Homo sapiens: one gene and its partner. The protein of the gene in region 2 interacts with the protein of the main gene of each other region in a pairwise test. Each region holds a gene or a part of one and is shown on either strand. Other genes may lie near its edges.

Region 1 (3,816 bases), on a different chromosome or scaffold from region 2:
CTCCCCCACACCCAGGTTTGGCTTAGGGAAACTAGGCTTGGGGACAGGGCCCTGCCTCCCCTCTCCGGCCGGCTCTGAGGGTAAAACCATGCCTCTCCCCTCAGTCCAGGCTACCAGGGCGAGGCAGAGCTGTGGAAGGCACGAGTGACCCCATTCAGCAGATGAGGACGGCCAGCCTACTGACCAGGCCCAGGTCTCAGCTGAGGGAGTGGCAGGGCTGGACTCAAACCCGGGTCTCTGTGCTGGTGACTGCTCATCACCCGGGCCCTCCGGAGAGCAGAGTCTGTGCCTCTCCCACAGGCAGAGCCAGGCTGTCCCAGGAGGGGCGGAACCTTCTCCTTTCCCCAGGCACTCGCCAGGGAGCCACTTCCATGGGCCCCTGCAGGGTCTAGAGTCCCCGCTTGCATTCCTCCTCCTTCTGAACAAAGAGGGTGGTGAGTGGGAGCCCCAGAGAGGCCCCGTAATAATCGAATCGGGACATCCGTCGCTGTGGGAGGCAGGTGGGGGTTGACAATATGGAGACAGAGACAGCCAGACGAAGCTGGGAGAGGAGGGCAGAGACAGGGACAGAAGGTCCGGGCTGAGGGCCCAGGTCGTGGCTGGGATCAGGGCTCAGAGCGCCACAGGAATCAACGCCCATTGTGCTATTAGGATTGGGGTCAGTGTGTGACCAGGGTCAGGGCTCAGAGTGGGACAGGGATCGAGGTTCATCACATTACTGGGATCATGGCTCAGTGTGTGACCAAGATGAGGGTTCAGCTTTGTTTGAGATCAGGGTCAGACCCTTAGTGCGGGGAATCAGAGCATGCTTTGCTAGCTCCCTCTCCTCTCCGGTCTGGCCTCTGGGGTGTCCAGCACATTCTGCCCATCCCCCCAGCTCCAGAGACCGCAGAGCCCCCACATCCCTAGCCAGGACCCCAGCACCGCAGCGTTGCTGGTGAGCCTGCTGGGCTGGCCCTGGGGAGTTTTCTGGGACAGCAGAATTCCCAGGGGCCAGCATCACCCTGGGACTCACTCCCACAGGAAACGTTCTGTGTTGTTTATGATTTGTCTCTGATTGGGACACTAATATAGGCCCCGTGCAGACAAATTGGAAAAGCAAAAGGCACATAGAAAGGAATCCCAAAATACTTTTTTGGCCATGCAGTCCCTCAGTCCAGCTGCAAAGCCGCCTCGACCTTTTCTGAGAGCGTTTCATCCACAGCAGGGGAGGGACGCATCTCTTTCGGGGGGACCTTCTGGGGCTCCTGAAGCCCACAGCCCTGAGACGCCAGGTTCCCAGCCCCCATGTGCCCAGCCTCCTCTCCTCCCCTGGCTGCCTGCTGTGCCCCCAAATCCCGTCTCTGGTGGCACACCTGGGCTGAGGGAGGACAGACCTATTCATCCAACAAATGCACCCATCAATGCCCGCGTGTCAGGGCCTGGAGATAGAGAGCTTGCTTGCAGTCGGGGGGAGCTGGGAGCTGAGCCTGGGCCCTTGTGTGGTGGGGGTGGCAGGAGGGGCTGGGCACAGGCCTGGGCAGCACTTGACTCCTCCCAGCAGCCTCCAGGGTAGCACGCACCCAGGGCTGGGGTCCCAGAGGCAGAGGGCATGCTGGGTGACCTCATGCAGGCACTGACCTCTCTGACTCTGAGGAAGAAGGTGGCCGCCGACTGGAGGGACCTGGCCCTCTGAAAGCAAGAGTTCTTTTGCTGCCCTGAGCCAGGCCAGGGGCTGTTTGAAGGCAGGGCTCATTGTTCCCCAGGGGTGGGATGGGGCCACGCACTGGTCAGAGGGAGTGGCGGGGCACAGCCTGTTTACAGCAGGGGCCACCAGGAGGGGAAGGGGTAAGTGTCCTCCCTTCTCCAGCAGGTGGGGGAGGGGCGCTGTGCAGAAGAAACGGCCCACGAGCCTCCCCACCCTGCTGGCCCCAAAGACTTCTCCTTTCTCCTGAAAAAGCCAGAAATGCCCTTATTTGGAGGGTCAGCCCAGCTGTAGGGTGGGGGTAGGGCCGTTAACCCTTCATTTATAAATAGAGGGATAAATCACTGCCGAGTTAAACACGCCAGGGCAGGAACATAAACAGAGTGGGTGGCTCCGGCACAGCCCCTCGCCCGCCCCCCACCCTGGCCCCCCTGCCCAGGCCAGACGGGAGCTCGGTGTTTATTTGACTCACACTCTGGCTCCAGGCTTCAGCCCCAACCAGCCACCCCACAGGGGCCTCTGTCTCCTTTTCTGTAGTTTGGGGGGATCATAGGGGTGCCCGCCTCTCAGGGCCAGTAGGAGCCTGGGGTGCCCAGTGAGACTGGTCCTTGGCTCCCATGCAGCCCCACTGGACAGCCTAATTCCCTTTGTAAAGGTCCCTCATGAGGACCCCCATCCAGGGCATTGACCTGATGCTGGCCTAGGAGGAGGGGAGAACAGATGGGTGGTCCCGGAGGATGGGGGCCATGACGGTGGGTGTGGGGACAGGGGAGTGGGCAGGGCAGTCAGAGGTCCCCACCATGAACAAGGCTCTGTCCCAGCAGAACTGGGTCATCAGCCACCAACTCTGCTGGCGCTGCCGTGCTGACCCGCTTGCTTAGTCACCCCAGCAGCAACGCGATCCCAGTGACATGGATTAGGAAGCAGGTAGAGAGGTTAAGTGGCCTACCCGAGCAAGCACACTAGTCAGTGGCACAGCTGGGGCTGGAGCCAGGCCCTGGAACTGCACACTGGAGCCCCGTGGTCTTGCCCTTATCAGCTCTCCATCCCGAGGACAGCCCTGCACCGCACGTGTTTCCGCCTCCCCCTCGTGCCAGGACGGTCGCAGAAACCTCCGTATTTTGTCGAGTCTCCACGCTGGCAAGTGCCAGTCCTGGAATTTGAACACGCGTCTGACTCTGAAAGCCTGTGCCTTTTCTGCTGCTGTCCGAGGCTCCCTCTGGGTAGAGCCAAGGGAGCAGGCATTTGAGGCCCCAGCCAGGCGAGGGCATGGAGAAGGGGGATGCTGGGCGTGCAGGGGCAGACGGGCCAGCTGAGTTCTGGGCCTCAGGGCAGGGCTTAAGGCCAGGCTGGCGCCTGGGGTGACCTGGTCTCCTTGCTTCCAGGCCTGGGGTGTGCTGGCTGCCGTCATGCCCTCTGTGTCTCCAGCGGGGCCCTCGGCCGGGGCAGTCCCCAATGCCACCGCAGTGACAACAGTGCGGACCAATGCCAGCGGGCTGGAGGTGCCCCTGTTCCACCTGTTTGCCCGGCTGGACGAGGAGCTGCATGGCACCTTCCCAGGCCTGTGGCTGGCGCTGATGGCGGTGCACGGAGCCATCTTCCTGGCAGGGCTGGTGCTCAACGGGCTGGCGCTGTACGTCTTCTGCTGCCGCACCCGGGCCAAGACACCCTCAGTCATCTACACCATCAACCTGGTGGTGACCGATCTACTGGTAGGGCTGTCCCTGCCCACGCGCTTCGCTGTGTACTACGGCGCCAGGGGCTGCCTGCGCTGTGCCTTCCCGCACGTCCTCGGTTACTTCCTCAACATGCACTGCTCCATCCTCTTCCTCACCTGCATCTGCGTGGACCGCTACCTGGCCATCGTGCGGCCCGAAGGCTCCCGCCGCTGCCGCCAGCCTGCCTGTGCCAGGGCCGTGTGCGCCTTCGTGTGGCTGGCCGCCGGTGCCGTCACCCTGTCGGTGCTGGGCGTGACAGGCAGCCGGCCCTGCTGCCGTGTCTTTGCGCTGACTGTCCTGGAGTTCCTGCTGCCCCTGCTGGTCATCAGCGTGTTTACCGGCCGCATCATGTGTGCACTGTCGCGGCCGGGTCTGCTCCACCAGGGTCGCCAGCGCCGCGTGCGGGCCATGCAG
Region 2 (3,816 bases):
CTGAGGTGGGAGGACTGCTTGAGGCTAGGAATTTGAGACCAGCCTAGGCAACATAGCAAGAATCCATCTCTAAAAAATAAAAAAATTAAAAAAATTATCCGGGTATGGTGGTGCATTCCTGGAGTCCCAGCTACTCAGGAGGCTGAGGTTGGAGGATCACTTGAGCCTAGGAGTTTCAGATTATAGTGAACTATGATTGCACTACTTCTCTCCAGTCTGGGTGACAGAGCAAGACTGTCTCTTAAAAAAAAGCACATGTCATTGTTATTCTGTAAAACTAAGTGTAAGAAATACGTTCCTTCTTGAATTATATGGGTGTAGATATACAATTATATGTATATGGGTGTATACACACATACACAGTCATATACATATATGCAACTAAACTGTCATCCCATTTATGAAAAATGAATTAAATTCTCTGAGGCTTTTCCTATGACTGTTAAGGCATCCGTCCTCTAATGTAATGCAACTGGATTTTTTGAACCCAAGTTTGGAAATAACTACTGTGAAGTTTTTTTCTTCTTCTCAGATTGATTCTGTTGCCTAATAATTACATTATTAACCTTCCAAGCTTAACATTTCTGCAAATTGAGAATTTTATTAAAAATACTCTCATTCAAGTCATTAATAACATGATGAACATGGATTTGTTTAGGAAACAACTATGTAACAGGCTAGCAGACACCTCCTGTCATACAACACAATTTATTAACATTCTCTGAGCATGGGATTCAACTGTGTGTGGATCCACCAAAATATTGTTTGGACCATATTTCTCCATCTTGTCCATGAGGATTTTATGAGCCACACTCTTCTGCCATTTAGATACTTCCCATGTATTTATTAAAGGAGCAATTCTTCAAAGAGTTCCCATTTTACAAAGCAAGTTTTAATTAGCCTATGATTAAATAACCTAGAGAAAATATTACATAGCATTTTCTCAAAAATAATTTAAATATTTTAAAGCAATGTACATTTTGGAAATGATCTTTTTAGAGATACTGTTTAAGTGAATCTGCTTATCATAAAAACTTCTGGTCTCGAAATTCTTTCCTAATGCCAAGTGTGTTATTAATTTTCTTAAATACCTCCAAAATATTAATTGATTTTTTTAAAAAAGAAAACTTGATAAGTCTTTTGAAAGGTTAAGTAATTTGACCAGAGTAGAAAACATTAATTATTGCTTGGTATAAACTCAGTTTGCTTGGGTATTGAGAGGTCAATAAGATTCAGCTTTTTATTTACTTGGATTAAAAAGAGCAGAGAGAGAAAAAAATCTACAGTAATCATAATCTTAGGCAAAGTCAAATCAGTAAGTGAAATTCCTGAGAACCAAAGTGTACCTTCTATTTACTTTGTAGTAGTCATTAAATCTGACATCTATGAAGCATTCAAAGTAAGGGCTATTATCTGACAAAAAAAAAAAACTGTCTTGTAGTTTGTCAATGAATTTGACATCTATGAAGGAAGGATTCACCCTAAAAGAAACTACTGACAAAAAATTGTCTTGTTCTGTAAGTGCTAAGTTGTAGTATGAATTTTATGTTATTTTTCTTCAGTGAAATGGGAGACAGAAGAGTAATAGATAAGGAGTAAGTTAACTTCTTACATCCTGTTCACCATTTTCTGTGATGTTGAGCAAGTCATACAGCCATATTATGCCTCAGTGAAGAGAAAATGTAACATTAAGTATGAAAATATTTTGTGTTTTTTTTTTTTTGAAAAAAAAGTCTTTATAAAAGGAAGGTACCATTTTTTTTACTGAAAGAAAAGGAACTAAACTGCTGAAAGGCCCAGTGTGGGTGGAGTCTGCTGGAGTTTTATAGTGAGGCAGCCATAAACAACCAACAAATCCATGCTTTACTTGCTGCACTTTGAAAAAATTTCTTTAGGACAGTTAACATATTCTAATTTTGGTTACATGTGAATATAGTTATAATTCACAAAGAAAACCAAAAAAATGAATTTATGAATTTGTATGTATTTCAAAAGATGTAAGTCCCAACCAAGGACACAAAACACCTCGGATCAATGGATGACCGTTAAACAAACTAATTTTAACTTTTAAGCTAACTTGTACTTAGAGTAGATATGTGAGAATCATGTTCAAATTAAAGTGGTCCTAGTGGAGAAACAAACATTTAAATTTTATTCGTTATGTATTTATTGTGTGCTAAGAAAAAGTAACTAATACATCAAAACCATGACTTCCTGGATATGATTCCTTAAGAGAAGGCAAAGGTAGATGTTTAAATTAAACAGGACCATTTAAATGGAAGGAAAAATAAACAGAAATAGTGCTGGTAGGACAAGGTAATGGTAAAAACCATGAGGACAGGCCGGGTACGGTGGCTCACACCTGTAATCCCAGCACTTTGGGAGGCCAAGGTGGGCGGATCACCTGAGGTCAGGAGTTCGAGAGCAGCCTGACCAACACGGTGAAACCCTGTCTCTACTAAAAATACCAAAATTAGCTGGGTGCGGTGGGCATGCCTGTAATCCCAGCTACTTGGGAGGCTGAGGCAGGAGAATTGCATGAACCTGGGAGGCAGAGGTTGCAGTGAGCCGAGATCACGACACTGCACTCCAGCCTGGGCAACAGACAAAGACCCTGTCTCAAAAAAGCAAAAACAAAAACAAAACAACAACAAAAAAAACCCATGGGGACGTATGTGAATAAAGGAAACAAAGAAAACAATGCCTTAATTTTTAAACATGTTGTGATGAATTTTTTTAAATGATAATTTCAAAGCAGCATTGAAAGGGATACTTTCTGATTACTTAAATAAGTGCTACGTTGACTATAAATGTCAACACCTGAATTAATTTGGTGAATAATATCAATGATATACATTCCTGAATTTTAAAAATATCAGAAATTCAAACTTCTGGACCTTCAACAATTTAGACTACAAGATACTTAGCTTTTATTTGAGAGAAAGACTACTTAGAAGAATGTATTTTAAAAACGATTATTTAAAAAACTAAAAAAAGTTGTTAAATACAATACTAAGTATTTTTGGCTTATTTGGGAGATGGCTTAAAAACAGCATCTTTGCTTCTTTGCAACACATCATATCAAGTTAATTTTAGTCATTCTCTCCTGTTTATTCTTCAAGTCACTCAGACATTTCCTGCTCCTTGCTCCTTGTACCCCCAACTGCTGTACTTCACAGTCGAATTGCAAACCATTTGTTCCTCCCAATATTTCATGCTTACCTACTTGCATTCGTTTCCCAGGACACCTGCGATATCCAACAGAATTGCGGGCTTCACAGGAATATTCTCCAGTGTCCAGTTTGGAAACAGTATTAAATTGCTATTTGTGGATGCAAAAATATATTTTTTTAAGCCATAGATCTATAAGTAGACTTTTTAAATAACCCTGTCCCTCAAATTTTAGCATTAAGTTTGTCTTTCCTTTTTAAAAATTTGGGACTTTCTGTCTTTACTATGAATTTAAAAATCTGCCATGACTTCAAGGAGTTTAAGCTAGACTTTTGCTTAATTTGACGAGAAGAACAAAGATAAAATACATACAGAGAAGTTCCTTTTTTTTTTTTTAACCATGAAAGCAGTACTGTTAGGAAGGCAATGAGTGTTTTTTAAAGTTCATAACACATGGTAGTATTAAGTAGTGTAGGTATTTCTAATTCCTAGGAAACATCATTTATAAATGAAGGGCAGGCCTCCCTGGTAAAAGGGTTAATGCACTTTCCTAAGTCACAAGCGAGTTCACTGCAGCAGCCAACAATAAACACTTCCTTTAAAGAGCCAGTTACTACCAGGAAGTAGCTTAGGGCCTAGGAAAAT

Evidence for each region.
Region 1: the proteins of JAM2 (region 2) and GPR20 interact in a two-hybrid assay, tested with the Homo sapiens proteins (one large-scale study listed by BioGRID and IntAct).

The regions. Positions count from the first base shown.
Region 1 is NC_000008.11:141,357,201-141,361,016, reverse strand, and holds part of GPR20 (G-protein coupled receptor 20), read left to right. Parts: intron 1-3,069; 5' UTR 3,070-3,093; coding exon 3,094-3,816. UniProt on the Homo sapiens protein: Orphan receptor with constitutive G(i) signaling activity that activate cyclic AMP.
Region 2 is NC_000021.9:25,701,676-25,705,491, reverse strand, and holds part of JAM2 (junctional adhesion molecule B isoform 1 precursor), read right to left. Parts: intron 3,323-3,816; coding exon 3,223-3,322; intron 1-3,222. UniProt on the Homo sapiens protein: Junctional adhesion protein that mediates heterotypic cell-cell interactions with its cognate receptor JAM3 to regulate different cellular processes. Plays a role in homing and mobilization of hematopoietic stem and progenitor cells within the bone marrow.